Linked DNA regions of Homo sapiens. The protein of the gene in region 1 purifies or fractionates together with the protein of each later gene. This does not show direct contact. Each region holds a gene or a part of one and is shown on either strand. Other genes may lie near its edges.

Region 1 (3,293 bases):
GACTTCAGAGTACAGGCTCTTAGGATGTGAGCAGGAGGATGGCAGGCGGGCACAGAATTCAGAAAGAATGAGGGAGAGGCTCTGGCCCTCTGTGACCCGAATCACCGAGCCCCTCTCTCCCCTCAGCTCACAAGTACGTGCCTCGAGCCATTCTGGTGGACCTGGAACCCGGAACCATGGACAGTGTCCGCTCAGGGGCCTTTGGACATCTCTTCAGGCCTGACAATTTCATCTTTGGTAAGTTCCCCCTGCTCCAAGCTCTGATGGCAGACCCCATCACAGGCAAGCCCAGGTCGGTGGACGGGGACGGCTGTGAGAAACAAGGAATGGTCAGCTCCTCACATGATCCTGAATGGTGGGAACTCATCTCTCCATTTTACAGCTGGGCATTGGAGGCCCAGAGAAAGGGTTCTGTGGGGAGAACAGAAACCACTCATGCATTTCAAGTGGAATGAAGTGTAAAGCAGACAGAAGCTTACAGAATTGCTAGAGAGCTGGTGAGACAGAACGGGGCCTCCAGAGGACTCCGGGGTCCAGGAGCACGAGGCCTTGCTGCGGTCAAGAGATCAGGACGTTCCCATGCCTGTGTCCTGGGGTTGGGCCGTGGATGCCACGTTCCCATGTCTGTGTCCTGGGGCGGGGCCGTGGATGCCACGTTCCCACGTCTGTGTCCTGGGGCGGGGCCGTGGATGCCACGTTCCCACGTCTGTGTCCTGGGGCGGGGCCGTGGATGCCACGTTCCCACGCCTGTGTCCTGGGGCGGGGCCGTGGATGCCACGTTCCCACGCCTGTGTCCTGGGGCGGGGCCGTGGATGCCACGTTCCCATGCCTGTGTCCTGGGGCGGGGCCGTGGATGCCACGTTCCCATGCCTGTGTCCTGGGGCGGGGCCGTGGATGCCACGTTCCCATGTCTGTGTCCTGGGGCGGGGCCGTGGACGCGCCACAGAAACAGGAGGGCCTCGCTTCACTTCTGCCTTCCCGACCGCAGCACATCCAGCTGGTAGATGCCAACTCGCATCCAGCCCCCAGCTGCCAGGGATTCTGGGGTGGCTGTTTGGGCTCCTGGCACTGCCAGTCGGAAGGAAGGTATGCTGGAGCAGGAGGGCTGATCCATTCACCCAGGATCCCCTCAGGAGGCAGAGCCTCGCTCTGCTGTGACCCCAAGTTCTCAAGACTCTGTCCAGAGCCCTCGTCCTGAGCACTCAGCAGCATCGGCTCAGGGAAGCCACGGCGGGTATGAGAAGGGGTGCTCAGTGGGGCCTACTTTACAGAAGACAGAACAGGCATGGGGCTGCCACGGCTGCCCTTGGGATGTTCAGGCAGGGGCTGGAGGTCTGGACTGCAGAGTCCCTGGCCCCTGTCTCTTACCCCTCTTCTCCCTGTACAGGTCAGAGTGGGGCCGGCAACAACTGGGCCAAGGGTCACTACACGGAGGGGGCGGAGCTGGTGGATTCGGTCCTGGATGTGGTGCGGAAGGAGTGTGAAAACTGCGACTGCCTGCAGGGCTTCCAGCTGACCCACTCGCTGGGGGGCGGCACGGGCTCCGGCATGGGCACGTTGCTCATCAGCAAGGTGCGTGAGGAGTATCCCGACCGCATCATGAACACCTTCAGCGTCGTGCCCTCACCCAAGGTGTCAGACACGGTGGTGGAGCCCTACAACGCCACGCTGTCCATCCACCAGCTGGTGGAGAACACGGATGAGACCTACTGCATCGACAACGAGGCGCTCTACGACATCTGCTTCCGCACCCTCAAGCTGGCCACGCCCACCTACGGGGACCTCAACCACCTGGTATCGGCCACCATGAGCGGAGTCACCACCTCCTTGCGCTTCCCGGGCCAGCTCAACGCTGACCTGCGCAAGCTGGCCGTCAACATGGTGCCCTTCCCGCGCCTGCACTTCTTCATGCCCGGCTTCGCCCCCCTCACAGCCCGGGGCAGCCAGCAGTACCGGGCCCTGACCGTGCCCGAGCTCACCCAGCAGATGTTCGATGCCAAGAACATGATGGCCGCCTGCGACCCGCGCCACGGCCGCTACCTGACGGTGGCCACCGTGTTCCGGGGCCGCATGTCCATGAAGGAGGTGGACGAGCAGATGCTGGCCATCCAGAGCAAGAACAGCAGCTACTTCGTGGAGTGGATCCCCAACAACGTGAAGGTGGCCGTGTGTGACATCCCGCCCCGCGGCCTCAAGATGTCCTCCACCTTCATCGGGAACAGCACGGCCATCCAGGAGCTGTTCAAGCGCATCTCCGAGCAGTTCACGGCCATGTTCCGGCGCAAGGCCTTCCTGCACTGGTACACGGGCGAGGGCATGGACGAGATGGAGTTCACCGAGGCCGAGAGCAACATGAACGACCTGGTGTCCGAGTACCAGCAGTACCAGGACGCCACGGCCGAGGAAGAGGGCGAGATGTACGAAGACGACGAGGAGGAGTCGGAGGCCCAGGGCCCCAAGTGAAGCTGCTCGCAGCTGGAGTGAGAGGCAGGTGGCGGCCGGGGCCGAAGCCAGCAGTGTCTAAACCCCCGGAGCCATCTTGCTGCCGACACCCTGCTTTCCCCTCGCCCTAGGGCTCCCTTGCCGCCCTCCTGCAGTATTTATGGCCTCGTCCTCCCCACCTAGGCCACGTGTGAGCTGCTCCTGTCTCTGTCTTATTGCAGCTCCAGGCCTGACGTTTTACGGTTTTGTTTTTTACTGGTTTGTGTTTATATTTTCGGGGATACTTAATAAATCTATTGCTGTCAGATACCCTTGCTTGGTGCCAGAGATGTCCTTTTATTCTGGAAAGTTGTGTCCAGTAGGTGGAGGGGCTGACAGGGAGGCCCGGGTGGACAGGCAAGAAGAGCTCATCCTCTCCCAGGCTGGCGGCTGAGAGAGGCCTGCGCTGGGGGCCGGAATGTGTCTCAAGGCACAGCCCGTGGGGAGACCCCGGAAACGGGAAGCCCGGGAGAAGGAACGGGAAGTACCTCATTCCAGACCTCAAGATGCAGCCCTCCCGACTTGGAAATAACCCCACACTCGTTCCCTGGCCTCCCACAGAGCGGCTTGCACCCCAGACTTTTCTCCCACCTGTCTGTAGGCTGAAAGTTGGGGCAGGTGGTCCCTCCTGCGGTGGAAACTGCCATCAGACCTGAAGCCTCGGGTCACAACCAGGGAGGTAGGGAAGGGGGCCCCGAGTGCTCCCTGAAAAAGACGGTGTGTTTAGTGTCTCGGGGCTGGGCCCTGGGAGGGGCTGCTGAGGTCAGGGAGATGCGGCCACAGGACGCAGGCCTGGGCTGCCGGGAGGGACG
Region 2 (7,037 bases), on another chromosome or scaffold:
TATTGTGAAAAACATAAAAAGAAAAAAATATTGTTCAGCATGGAAGGGGAAGAAGTTTCTTTAGATAAAGCTGTGAACAACCACACCTCTGTTGTGGTTTCCATCAAGATGAGTAAAAACAGGAGAAAAATTCAGCAGCACAGACTGGAGCCTCATACATTGCTGGTGGGATGGTAAAATGATGCAGCTGCTTTGGAAATCAGTTTGGCAGTTCCTCAAAATGTTAAACTTAAGAGTCACCATGTAACCCAGCAATTCTAATCCTAGGTACGTAACCAAGAGAGGTAAAAACATATGTCCATGCAAAAACTTGTACTGGAATATTCACAGAAGCATAATTTATAATAACAACCCAAATGTTTGTCAACTGATGAATGAATAAACAAAATGTGGTACATCCATACAGTAAAATATATTATTCAGCCTAAAAAAGAAAGGAGGGCTGGGCATGGTAGCTCATGCCTGTAATCCCAACACTGGGAGGCCAAGGAGGGAGGACCACTTGAGGCCAGGAGTTTAAGATCAGCCTGAGTAACATAGCGAGACCCCTGTCTCCACAAAAAACACACTTAAAAATTAGCTGGGGGTGGTGGTACACTCTTGTAGTCCTAGCTACCCAGGAGGCTGAGGCAGGAGGATCACTTGGGCCCTGAAGTTCAAAGTTACAGTGAGCTGTCGTACCACCTAGCCTGAGCAATTCAATGAGACCCTGTCTCTAAAATTTAAAAAAATTTTAAAAAACCCAGAAAGGGAACACTGACACATACTACAACATAAATGAACCTTGAAGACATTATGCTAAGTAAAATAAGCCAGACCCAAAAGGACAAAGATTGTATAATTCCACTCATATTAAGTACCCGGATTAGTCCAATTCACAGAGACTCAAAGTAGAATGGTGGCTGCCAGGGGCCAGAGGGCGGGGGCAATGGGAATTACTGTTTGGTGTGTTTGGTGGGAAGACAGTTTCACAGAAGGAAAAATGAAAATGTTTTGGAGGTGGCTGGTGGCAATGGTTGCACAACAATGTGGATGCACTTAATGCCACTGAACTGGACAACTAGAAATGGTTAAAATGGTAAATTTTATGTTATGTGTATTTTACCACAACAACAAAAAAAACACAGTGGAAAAGAGGACTAAACTACTGCTATATGTGCTACAACGTGAAAAAACATTGGTGAAAGAAGCCAGGCACAAAAGGCTGGTAGTGTATGATTTCATTTAAATAAAATGTCCAGGATAGGCAAATCCATAGAGACAGAAAGCAGATCTGTGGCTTCAGGCGTTGGAGGGAGGGGGGGAGGGCAGTGACCGCTGATGGATGCAGCGTTTCTATTGGAGGTGATGAAAATGTTCTCAATTAAACAGTGGCAATGGATGCGTAACTCTGTGACTATACTAGAAAACACTGAGTTGTACACTTTAAAAGGGAGAATCTTCTGGTACATGAATTATATCAGAATAAAGCTATTCTTTTTATTTTTTATTTTATTTATTTACTTATTTATTTTTATTTTTTGAGACAGAGTCTCGCTCTGTCGCCCAGGCTGGAGTGCAGTGGTGCAATCTTGGCTCACTGCAAGCTCCGCCTCCCAGGTTCAAGCAATTCTCTGCCTCAGCCTCCCAAGTAGCTGGGGCTACAGGCCCCTGCTACCACGCCCAGCTAATTTTTTGTATTTTTAGTACAGAGGGTGTTTTGCCATGTTGCCCAGGCAAGTCTTGAACTCCTGACCTCAAGCAATCTGCCTGCCTCTGCCTCCCAAAGTGCTGGGATTACAGGAGTGAGCCACCGTGCCTGGCCAAAGCTATTCTTTTTAAAAAGTTCAGCAGCACAAAAACAAATATGAGTAGTGAGATGGCTCAGGAGACCTACTTCGGGGAACGGCCTCTGGAGGTGGTCCCACTTCAGAAGCTTCAGGTAAGCGTAATTCTGGACAGCAACAGGGCTCAGCCTGGGCATGTCCCCAGAGCCAGCAGCCATTCCCCCCACTGGCAGGGCGTGTTTATACTTCTGAGTCATAAGGTCCTCTGAGGCTTCTTCCAGCCACTGGGTGACAAAGTCCAGGGAATCTGTGAAAAACAAAGCTGCACACATTACCTTGACACCAAGAAGGGATGCTTCTCGGAATTACTTAAGGGACAATCGATGTCCTGGTGGAGTGATAAAGTATAAAGTATGAACTTTGGAATCAAATAAAACTTGGATCAAATCATAGTAGTGCCAATGACTAACTGAGGGATCTCAGGCAAGTCATAATGTGTCTGAGTTTCAGATGCCTGATATAGGCAAATTTACAACACCCACCTCACAGGCTGTTGTGAGGATTAAACAAGATAATGAATAAGCCAGGCATGGTGGCTCATGCCTGTAATCCCAGCACTTTGGGAGGCTGAGGTGGGAAGACTGCTTGAGCCCAGGAGTTCGAGACCAGCCTGGGCAATGTGGCAAGGCTCTGTCTCTACAAAAGATACAAAAATTAGCTGGGCATGGTGGCACATGCCTGTAGCCCCAGCTAGCTGGGAGGCTGAGGCAGGAGAATCACTTGAGTCCTGGAGGTTAAAGTTGCAGTGAGTGGTGATCACACCACTGTACTCCAGCCTGGGGGACAGAGCTAGACCCTGTCTAAAATAATAATAATAATAGTAACAAATACATGACACCTAGCCAGGCCTTGCCACCCACCTGGTATTTAACAAACCTTCCTTCCCTTCTCTCCCATCCTGACCACTGCATGAGATGGACCCCAAAGCCCTGGCAACTCCAGCTCTAGAGACAGATAGGATGAGACACCAGCTAGAGTTTCCCTGTGTAAAGTATCCTCTACACTGATGATGAGGCTTTTCCTTGTTTAGATCTTAACCTTGTATCAATCTGGCTTCCTTTCAACCTGGGGGAAAGTGAACTCTGTCAGGGAAGCCCCATCTGGCTTTCAGCAGCCCTCCTGCACCCCTGCTTTTCTAAGCTTGGTAATGCAGGGGGCACTCTGAGGGATACAGAGAGAGAGCTGGAGGATCTCACACATCATCTGATAAAAACTGCACCTGTCAGGTCCCAGCAGGTGTTGCAGCTCTGTTAGTGGAGGCTTCCTGCTTCCTTAAAACCAAGTGGGCGGCCAAGGTCACAGCTGTGGTTTGCTCTTCACTGGGGCAGGGGGATGCAGCTCCAGTTTACCCTGAGCTCTCGGTCATGACTCCTGGGCCATCTGGCTTCACCCTCTCTTCTGCTGATAATATTCTCCGTAACCCCCCAGCTTTGGGAAACCCAGGCTTTCATGTTGTGAGTTAAGTGCTAGATGCAGGCACTGTAGCTGCTTCCACCCTACCAGTGAGTCCTCCACTATGCCCCAGCTTCCAGGTCCAGGCCTTAATATTACGGCTCTTCAGGCTACAAAACTCTGCCTAGCGGAGGTTGCAGTGAGCAGAGATCGTGCCACTGCACTCCAGCCTGGGTGACAGAGTGAGGAGACTCTATCTCAAAGAAAACAACAACAACAACAAGAAAAAACTCTTCCCAGTACTCTCACAACACTGGTGAGAGTGTGAGCTTGTGGTCAATCCATTCTGGTCAAAAATCTCCCAAAACCTGTTTCCAACATCTGTAAAATGGGATTAAAAAAAAGGTGCCTGGCTCATCAGCTTACTGTGTGAGGATTACATATGATCATGTACATCCAGCCCTTGGCACAAGCCTGGCACTTAGTAAACATTACCAAACTTCTTCTACTTCTACCTCTACCCTGTCCTTTCTCAACCTGCCCCGGCCCCAGCACTACCTCAGACTCCTCTGCCTGGGGCTGGATGAATCAACTGCATGGGGCATTCACTTAACTAATCTGGTCAGGCAACCCAACCAACCCAGAGACTGCTGTTTTCATCTCCTCGTCAGCAAAGTTAGAGGCCAAATGGAATTCATCATACATTGAATCTGAAGACTGAAATTTACCCAGAATGTCAGTTAGCAATGCAGAGACCATAAAAAGCACCCTAGAAATACAACGTAGTTTTAGATTCTGAGAGTCGTCTGTTTTCTGCAGTCATCGGAGAGGTTCATAAAAATGAGACTCTTCCTGGGTATGAAACAAGAAGATTTATGCATCCAGAACAAAAGCAAAGTTAAATTTCCTGCTGTGCCACACAGGGAGAAGAAAAGTGAATTAACATTCACAGGATGTCTGTCATGTTTTCAAAAATCAAGACCAAGAATGTATTTTACTTCAAACTGGTGTTTTCATCAAAAAACCATTTATAATTTAGGAATTCATTGTTTTTAATTTCTATTCTCATAGCCTACTCACATTCCTTTTGCTTGTGAATTAAGTTTTCTTTTCAATGCTTAACAACTCTAGATGTAGTCCCAACATTTTGTGCTTTTCCTTCTTCAAATTAGACTATTCTCCTACTAAATTTTAGTTTTGTTCTGAAAATAATATTATGCAACAAGCTATGGCAGCTAAAATGAAAAACCACAGACAACAAAAAAAGTACCACAAAATATTCAACATACTTGGTTGCCTCTCCAAAATCTCTTGAAACTTCTTCCTTTCGTATTCAACTGACTGCTGCATGAGATGAGGCCTGATGCTACTGATAGCAAAGTTGGCCATGTCCACTTTCATTAGGTCCAACACAGAAAAAATTTCTCTGAAAGAAAAAAGGATTTAGAAGCAAGCATTTGTAAAGTAAACATAGCATTAAAGGAAAAGAGGACCAGACGCGTGGCTCACACCTGTAATCCCAACACTTTGGGAGGCCAAGGCGGGAGGACTGCTTGAGCCCAGGAGTTCCAGACCAGCCTGGGCAGCATAGCAAATGTGACAACATGATAAAAACTGATGGATCCACATGAAGGGCTTGTGAGTGTTGATTGTACTGTTTTTGTAACTTTTCTGTAGGTTTGGAATTTTTCAAAAGAAAATGTTGAAGGAAATTAATGTATAAAAAATATATCTATGTATCAAAATGATAAGAGTGATTATGCCTCTGAGAGGTAAAATTATGAGTAAATGTCTTCTTTTTACTTTTCTGCATTTTACAAATTTTTTTTTTTTTTTTAAATCCATGAGTACCAAGACTTCAGGAAGTTTAAATTGAAAATAGTTCTGGTCTGGGCACAGTGGCTCACGCCTGTAATCCCAGCACTTTGGGAGGCCAAGGCAGCCAATCACGTGAGGTCAGGAGTTCGAGACCAGCCTGGCCAACGTAGTGAAACACCATCTTTACTAAAAATACAAAAATTAGCTGGGCACGGTGGTGCGTGCCTATAATCCCAGCTACTCAGGAGGCTGAGGCACGACAATTGCTTGAATCCAGGAGGTGGAGGTTGCAGTGAACCAAGATCACGCCATTGCACTCCAGCCTTTGCAACAGAGTGAGACTCTGTCTCAAAAAAAAAAGAAAAGAAAAAAAAGAAAATGCCTCTGAATTGTAGTTGCACGGAGTATGATTAACATATTTCCATACCTGAAAAGGGGCACTATTTCCTTAATGTCCTTTAGTTTCTTAACTTCCTCATCTCGAGCAGGTGCACACAGTGTCCCCATCATGCCAATAATGAATTCTGCCAGCTTGGAAATGTCTAGCGCCCCATTCTCTGCTTCCTGCTTTATCAGATCCAGATCCAAGACTTCTGTTATCTGGTTTCTCAGTCTAGTATGACCAGGCAGCAAGAAAGATAAGAGAGTCTACAAGAGAACACAGCTACGTTTAATCAAAATTCTTTAGACATCATTTCTAATTATATGTAATTTATAACTATCCAAATAAGGGCTTCTCAATTGCTACGTAATATTGCACATATTTTACTTCTTATTCAACAAACCTACAGAAAAACATGTTTACAAATCATTTACAATAGCTACTTAAGCTTCCATTTAAGCCCTAGGTAGCAATTAAATGGATAGAAGAAAAAACTGTTAATGGTGAAAAAAGAAAAGCATGTTTATTAATGTGAGCCTGTGAGCCAACCATAGCTGATGACAATTTCCATGCATACATTTCTTCTTTGATGCTACTGCTAAAGGCGCTGCAAAAACAGTCCCTCCACCTAAAGCTTTCTCTGTCCCAAAGGCTGAGTCACTTTTTGGCCATTATAAATGGAATGTGTCCACACCTATTAAAATTTATAAATAAACTAGATTTTGTGAAATAACTTTGTTGTCTTAAATGCCTTCAGGTTATCATGGTTTGCTTAAAACTTTTTTTTAAAAAAGGGCATTAAGCCAAAAACACTCTTGATCCACCTTCTGGCAAGTACTTTAACTTCTTGATCCTTCAATTTCTTTAAAGTCTTCTGGTGGTGACACAAGAAGTTGAATAAACACTCCTAACACACCAGAAAAGCATCACAATTCACTCTTTGCCTCACCTCTTTGATTTCTCCTACAAGTTTGATAGCATGGTCATATGCTGGGGGATCTTCACTTAGCTGCACACTCAAGCAATCCCAAAACGCTTTATGTACAATCTCCTTTACTCTCTTCTTCAAGCTGGGGCAGTGAAAAAAAAAAGGAGGGGGGCAAAAACCAAAATATTTGAGTTTCAAATCACTTTCAAAAGCACAAATACTATGGGTTTAGGGTAAGATCAATCCCAGTGATTTGGACCAAGGAAAGATTTCCCAGGCATACTTCAACTGAGGGCATACTTTATTTTAAAAGTTAGTGATTTTTTGCAATAAGCATCTCATTGGAAAGAATCGCTCTCAACTAACTGGATAGCCAACATTAATCCAAGAAACAGCATATGACAGTGCCATATAATAAGAATATTGGAAAGTTCAAAGCTGTTAATTTTAGTTCCCTGTTACTAGTAAGTTTCCTAAGATGTTTATAATTAGGTAGTCTAAGATAACAATTTAGGCTGGGCGTTGTGACTTACGCCTGTAATCCCAGCACTTTTGGAGGCCGAGGCAGGCAGTTCACCTGAGGTGAGGAGTTCGAGATCAGCCTGGCCAGAGGTTGCAGTGAGCCGAGATAGTGCCACTACACTCCAGCCTGGACAACAGAGCGAGACTCTGTCTCAAAAAAATAAAATAA
Region 3 (7,037 bases), on another chromosome or scaffold:
GGTTAGATAATAGACATTTTCTGTTCTATAATATTTTGTTTGGTCACCAAACAGTGCTGCCCATGTTATCAAACTGATCACCGACTCCCTGACTTTAGGTTCAAATGTTTGAACGTTTTTCTCTATTTGGAATCCTTCTCACCTCTTTAAAAAGGAAACTGAGCTCCTTGTGGGCAAGGATCCTGGCTTCCTGGACACTGCCAAATGTGACTTCGTTTTGAAGCCTAAAAGATGAGTCTTCCCCCGTTGTTTCTGCTGAGACAAGGCTTTGCAGAAGAAATTCTTTGGCAGCTCAGCCCTTTCTGTAACCAGTTAATAAGTTACATTTTCTAGAAATGTTCTAACTTTTTGAGGGAGTTACTGCATGTCTTAGCTTTCTTCTAGATCATGTTTCCAAAAGTTGCCTGCTCATGTGAATCGAGTAGAGAACCAGTTCCTAACCTTCTCCAGGAGATAATTCTGGGAATCTGTATTTTAACAAGCCCCTTGACATTCATATGATCAGACAAGTTTGGTATATACTGTTTTGGATGAGTAGTGACTCTTCCCCTTCTGTTTTGCTGACGTAAGGATTAAAAAACCAAACTGAGCAATCTGGAGTCTCTTGTGATTTGTATCAAGCTCATTTTCTCATATTCAGAATAGTAGCAGCCATTCTCCTAAATTAAACACTACCTGAGGACATGGATTATGTCCTATTTATTTTTGTGTCCTTAGCATCTTGTACCATCTCTGGCACATGGTAAATTCTCGTGACTGAACCCTAGTACAGCATTGTGAAGGACTTAACTTTGCAGAAGAGAGATTTTATTTTGTTATCTAAATAATTTTTCCTTGTGTGTCTTTCATCAGAATGGTTCACGCTGTACTATAGTTATTACTACTCTGTTTCTTCTAAAATTCCAGCAAGGGTTGATATTAAAAAATTAAAAAAGGCTGATAGCTAGGCGTGGTGGCTCACGCCTGTAATCCCAGCACTTTGGTATGCCAAGGTGGGCAGATCACTTGAGGTTGGAAGTTCAAGACCAGCCTGACCAACATGGAGAAACCCCGTCTCTACTAAAAATCAAAAATTAGCCAAGCGTGGTGGCACATGCCTGTAATCCCTGCTACTCGGGAGGCTGAGGCAGGAGAATTGCTTGAACCCGGGAAGTGGAGGTTGCGGTGAACCGAGATCACACCACTGCACTCCAGCCTGGACGACAGAGCGAGAATCTGTCTCAAAAAAAAAAAAAAAAGGCTGATAAATAGTTGTTGGATCCCTTGTAAAGAATCATTTATCTACAATGGACAGACTATCTAGGCTTGTCCTGTGTTTTTTTTTTTTTTTTTTTCTTCAAACAGAGTCTTGCTCTGTTGCCCAGGCTGGAGTGCAGTGACACAATCTCAGCTCACTGCAACCTCTGTCTCCTGGGTTCAAGTGATTCTCCTGCCTCAGCCTCCCGAGTAGCTGGGATTACAGGCACCTGCCACCACGCCCAGCTAATTTTTGTATTTTTAGTGGAGACGGGGTTTCACTGTATTGGCCAGGCTGGTCTCGAACTCCTGACCTCGTGATCCGCCCACCTCGGCCTCCCAAAGTGCTGGGATTACAAGTGTGAGCCACCGCACCTGGCTGTCCTGTGTTTTCTCCATGCTGGAAAAATCAGTTTGACCCTCAGGAAACAAGTCTCAAGAACGTATAGATCTCTTAACCATTTAGGATCCCTGGGTGCCTCAATTGTGAAGTTGTGTTTTTGGAAAACGCCTTTTGGGAGTATGGAAAAACAGGAAATCACAAAACCTACAGAAATGAACTTGCTAGTTTAGCTACTATTCTAATGCTGGTCTATGGTGTTTGAGGTTACTCATTTATGATTAAGCAACCTAAAATAAATGGAATCTGGCTAAAGCTTTTTTTAAAAAAAACTCTTAAGTTTATTTTTTCATTTTATTTATTTATTTATTTATTTATTTATTTATTTTTAAGTAGAGACGGGGTTTCACCATGTTGGCCAGGCTGGTCTCAAACTCGTGGTCTCAAGTGATCCACCAACCTCGGCCTCCCAAGGTGCTGGGATTACAGATGTGAGCCACCGCGCCTGCCCTGGCTAAAATTTCTTTGCAAAGAATTATTTAAAATGTTCAGTTATCCGGGCACGATGGTGCATGCCTGTAGTCCCAGCTATTCTGGAGGCTAAGGTGGAAGGATCACTTGAGCCCAGGAGTTTGAGTCTAGTCTGGGCAACATACTGATACCTTTTCATTTAAAAAAAATTTTAATAGTAATAAGAATGTTCAGTCAATATCAATAGAATTAGGAAGAATTTCTATTTCCTTCCTTCATTAATTCAACAAATATTTATTGAGCAAACATCTGTGTGTCGTCTGGCGCTGTTGCACAGGTCAAACTGGCTTCTTAAGAATGAAATCCTAAGTGTGAGGAAGAAATTGCATTGTATGTGTGGTCTGACTGCAGAAAACCTAAAATAAGTAAACTGCTGCCATGATGAAAAGTCAAGGAGTAAGTTGGCTTTTCCATGTTAGTAAGACAAGTGAAAAGGCATGTTTCAGTCACGATGTAATATTTCCTAAAATTTTGAAGCTATGGGGAGAAAGGTTTGGGAGGAATTTCATAGGGAAAAGAAAATGTGGGGAGGGGGAATGTAAGCAAACAATACTTAGTACATTTTACAAAATTAAAGTCACTTTGTAGGTATATAAAAAGTTTTAAAAGTTGGTTTATTAATGAGAGTAGTGTATTACATTTCTTTTCAAGCAGTAGTTTAAATATTAACCAGTTTACTTTTTTTTAAAGTCAATTTACTTTTCCAGCCTGGACAACATGGTGAAACCTCGTATCTACAAAAAATAGAAAAATTAGCTGGGCGTTGGTGGCTCACGCCTGTAGTCCCAGCTACACAGGAGGCTGAGGCTGGTGAATGGCTTGAGCCCAGGAAGCATAGGTTGCAGTGAGCCGAGATTGTGCCACTGCACTCCAGCTTGGGGACAGAGTGAGACCCTGTCTCAAAAAAAAAAAGTCCATTTACTTTTAAATGCTTTTTTCTTTTTTTTTTGGCAAATTGAGACAAAAGCTGCTGAACTTTCCTAAATCTACACTGTTAGTATTATCAGTTTGTGAAAAGCAAGCAGAAGGAGAATAAACATGAGTATGATATTAAAACAAATTTGTTATAATGTCTGTATTTAGGGTCTTCTGGAGGAATAAACAGAATTAAAAAAAAGAAAAACAAAAACAAAAAAAATTTATTTTTAGTAAATGAACCAGGGGTAGAGGTGGAGGACAAACTAAATTCATTGAACTAAATCACATGGAACTTTTCCTAACCAGTTTCATTTTCTAAGCTCTGAGAGTTACCACTTTCTACTTCTGATGGTTCATTATTTTTGTAAGCTTCTGAAAATCAAAAGCTTGCCCAGATTGAGATAAGTTTCTGCCCCGCTCACGTTTTTATTTTCATGATTTGTCATTATTTCCAAATCTCAACCATTTTATTTCATGTGGTGATGAAGAGTTCTAAAAGCAGGTAAGAAGAACAGTAAAGAAAAATACATTTCCTTTTCTAAGAGTGTAGATCTAAAGTCTCTTATCTGTAATTCAGAAATTGAAATTGTAGAATGACCAAAATTTAAGACTATCAAGTTTTCATAACTCATTTGCCAGTAAAACCTGACCTGAACTGGAGAGAGGCTACTTTATAATCTTTTTAAAATATCACTTAGCGTGATTGGTCATATTAATATGTTTAACTATGAATTGCTGCCCTTTACCTTGCTAGGTGTCACTATGTGGTATATGCCCCATATACTTAAGACCAGATAATTCAAAGTTCCAAATTATACATGGTCCCCAGGATTTCAGATGAGAGACCACAGATCCACATTGGGCTTGTTTTTACCCGTCTGTGGCCTAACGTTATGAAAGCAAGGGGGAAATTCCTTCTCTAATCTCTGCAAGTATACATGGGATGCTACTACCAGTGTCCATTCTGTTTGTCTTTTAAAGCCTAGACAGGACAGGGACATAAGTATCAGCCTCTAGACTAAGCTTGTCCAACCTGCAGCCCAACACAAATTTGTAAACTTTCTTAAAACATTATGAGATTTTTTTGCGATTTTTTTTTTTTTTTTTTTTTTTTTTTTAGCTCATCAGCTATGGTTAGTGTTAGTGTATTTTATATGTGGCCCAGGACAATTCTTCTTCTTCCCATGTGGCTCGGGGAAGCCAAAAGATAGGATATACCTGCTCTAGACAGATGGTTCTCAATGTGTGGTCCCCACCCTAACAGCAGCAGCAGCAACAGCAGCATCCCCTGGGAACTTGTTAGAAATGCACATTCTTGAGCCCCATCCCAGATCTATTGAATCAGAACCTCTGGGCCTGGGGCCTGGCCAGCTTTGTTTTATAAAACCTTCAGGGCATTGGGATACACTCTCAAGTTTGAAAACCACTGCTCTAGATCGGGGTCTGCCAACTACAGCCACAGGCCAAAGCCAGTCAGTCACCTGCTTTTGTATGCCCCAGGAGCCATGAGTGGGTTTTGCATTTTTTTTCTTTTTTCTTTTTCTCTTTTTTTTTCTTTGAAATGGAGTTTCGCTCTCGTTGCCCAGTCTGGAGTGCGATGGCACAATCTCGGCTCACTGCAACCTCCGCCTCCTGGGTTCAAGCTATTCTCCTGCCTCAGCCTCCCGAGTAGCTGGGATTATAGGCATAAGCCACCACGCCCGGCTAATTTTTTGTATTTTTAGTAGAAACAGGGTTTCTCCATGTTGGTCAGGCTGGTCTCTAACTCCCAACCTCAGGTGATTCACCCTCCTCGGCCTTCCAAAGTGCTGGGATTACAGGCGTGAGCCACTGCACCTGGTCTTTTTTCTTTTCTTTTTTTTTTTTTTTGAGACGGAGTCTCACTCTGTTGCCAGGCTGGAGTGCAGTGGTGCGATCTCGGCTCACTGCAACCTCCGCCTCCCGGGTTCAAGCGATTCTCCTGCCTCAGCCTCCCGAGTAGCTGGGACTACAAGCATGCCCCACCACACCTGCCCAGCTAATTTTTAACGGGGTTTCACCATGTTGGCCAGGATGGTCTCGATCTCTTGACCTCGTGATCTGCCCACCTAGGCCTCCCAAAGTGCTGGGATTACAGGCGTGAGCCACCACGCCTGACCTACATTTTTTAAACGGCTGAAAAAAAAAAGAATTTCGTGACACATGAAAATTATATAAAATTTAAACTTCAGTGTCCATAAAGTTTTATTGGAACATGGCCACATCCATTCATTTATGTATTGTCTTTGGCTGCTTTTATGCAGCATCAGTGGAATTGAGTAGTTGCAGCAGACACCAAATGGCCCAGAAAGCTGAAAATATTTACCATCTGGTTCTTTGCAGAAAAAATTTGCTGCTCTAGGTTGATAGTCAACAAACACGAGGAGTAATCACAGAATAATCAGAGACTGAGACCTTCCTTTATCTGAAAATGTCAGCGTCTCCCTAGAAAAAGAAATCTACAGAACTCTTATATTTCTATGTACAGGTGCTGTTATGATCATCACATCATTACATAGCTCTGCATAGTTTTACGTCAAAATAACCTTTGTATTATTTTGGAGGAGTAAGAGTCAAGGAGTTGCTGGACACTTCACATTTTGTCATTATAAAAAATATTTCATAGTCCAAAATTTTTTAGTTCTTTGGGGGAGAGAAACTCATTAAAATTTTTTTTTCTGATTTTCTTCTGAGCTTTAACATTTCTGTATTCCAGGACACATTACCTTTCATGCAAGATTGAACTGTGTCCTGGTTAGAGTGTTGCGTTTTATTTTGTGCAAGATTGGAACCATCTAGATTACTCCTTAAATGGTTGTTATAATGTCCCAGGTAGCCCATGGTTAACTTTGTATATCTACCTATTCAGTCATCTCTCTGTGTTTACTTAATTTATGGGAAAGACATGAAGGAAGAGGTATTTGATGAACTGTTCGTGTTTTTCATGATCTTTTCTGGAAGCTGAAAATTTTCTCACTGGACAGCATTAAATTTTACTCTTAAAAACTTCAGCAACTTAAGAGCGTTCATTCAGCTGTCTGTAGTATTTATATATGCAGTTTTGATGATATTTTTCTTGATCATTTAACGGTGAATATCTGTGGGCAATAAGTCTTGTACAGTGCATTGACATTTAATCATAAATATGTATTAACTATTTTATTTTTGTATGTGTGTGTCTTAATAAATTATGTTTCTTAGGCAACTTGTTCCAGCGATGGCATGTTCCTCTAGAACTCCAGATGACAAGACAAATGGCTAGCTCTGGTGCATCAGGGGGCAAAATCGATAATTCTGTGTTAGTCCTTATTGTGGGCTTATCAACAGTAGGAGCTGGTGCCTATGTAAGTAGAAAAGCAGCGTGTATAAAGAAGCTGCCAAACAGCTCCCATTAATAGACTCGATAGTATTCTGCTTTAAAACTTTTGCAACTAATTCCCCTTTCTCCTTTTGGAAAAATTTTCAAAAAGCCTTCTCTTAAGTGCCTGCTGCCTAATATCTTATGGGAGCCAATTCTGGAATGACTGAAATTTAATCTCATGTTGATTGATTTCTGCTCTTTTCACTTGTCTTTTTCTTCTTTACTTGAAAGCCACTATGTTTTCCTAGATTCGAGTAACCCACAAAATTGTACCTGTTTTCTTGGATGTCACACACTAACCTGTGAATAAAGTCAAAATCCATTGCAGCTCCTTAGCACAATATTTGATTTTGACCTATTTGTCAGACATTTTATTTCCTCAGCTTGAGGTTCACATTAAAAAAACAACAGCCTTCAATCAAAAATATTAAGTGTTCCTAAAAGGAAAGCTATCCCTGAATCTTACCCAAAGACTAAATTACAGAAACAGGGCTAGTATCACTGATTTTAGAATGGAGTTTGTTTGAGGTGAGAAATATGGTGTTTAATTGCTATGTAGTATTAGCACCATTATATCTCCTTAAATGAACTCCGATCAGCTTAGCAGGTCACAGAGGAATTATTTTGTGGGTG

The links. The genes of interacting proteins can lie anywhere in the genome.
Region 2: the proteins of TUBB3 (region 1) and TCP11L1 purify together in Homo sapiens (affinity purification with mass spectrometry; 3 studies listed by BioGRID and IntAct, with this or other methods). This does not show direct contact.
Region 3: the proteins of TUBB3 (region 1) and AIFM1 purify together in Homo sapiens (affinity purification with mass spectrometry; 3 studies listed by BioGRID and IntAct, with this or other methods). This does not show direct contact.

The regions. Positions count from the first base shown.
Region 1 is NC_000016.10:89,933,342-89,936,634, forward strand, and holds the end of TUBB3 (tubulin beta-3 chain), read left to right. Parts: intron 1-126; coding exon 127-237; intron 238-1,387; coding exon 1,388-2,463; 3' UTR 2,464-2,756; downstream 2,757-3,293. UniProt on the Homo sapiens protein: Tubulin is the major constituent of microtubules, protein filaments consisting of alpha- and beta-tubulin heterodimers. Microtubules grow by the addition of GTP-tubulin dimers to the microtubule end, where a stabilizing cap forms.
Region 2 is NC_000011.10:33,056,566-33,063,602, reverse strand, and holds part of TCP11L1 (T-complex protein 11-like protein 1), read right to left. Parts: intron 6,489-7,037; coding exon 6,368-6,488; intron 5,685-6,367; coding exon 5,464-5,684; intron 4,645-5,463; coding exon 4,508-4,644; intron 2,089-4,507; coding exon of another isoform or gene 2,074-2,088; coding exon 1,877-2,073; intron 1-1,876.
Region 3 is NC_000023.11:130,155,811-130,162,847, reverse strand, and holds part of AIFM1 (apoptosis-inducing factor 1, mitochondrial isoform AIF precursor), read left to right. Parts: intron 1-6,244; coding exon 6,245-6,387; intron 6,388-7,037. UniProt on the Homo sapiens protein: Functions both as NADH oxidoreductase and as regulator of apoptosis.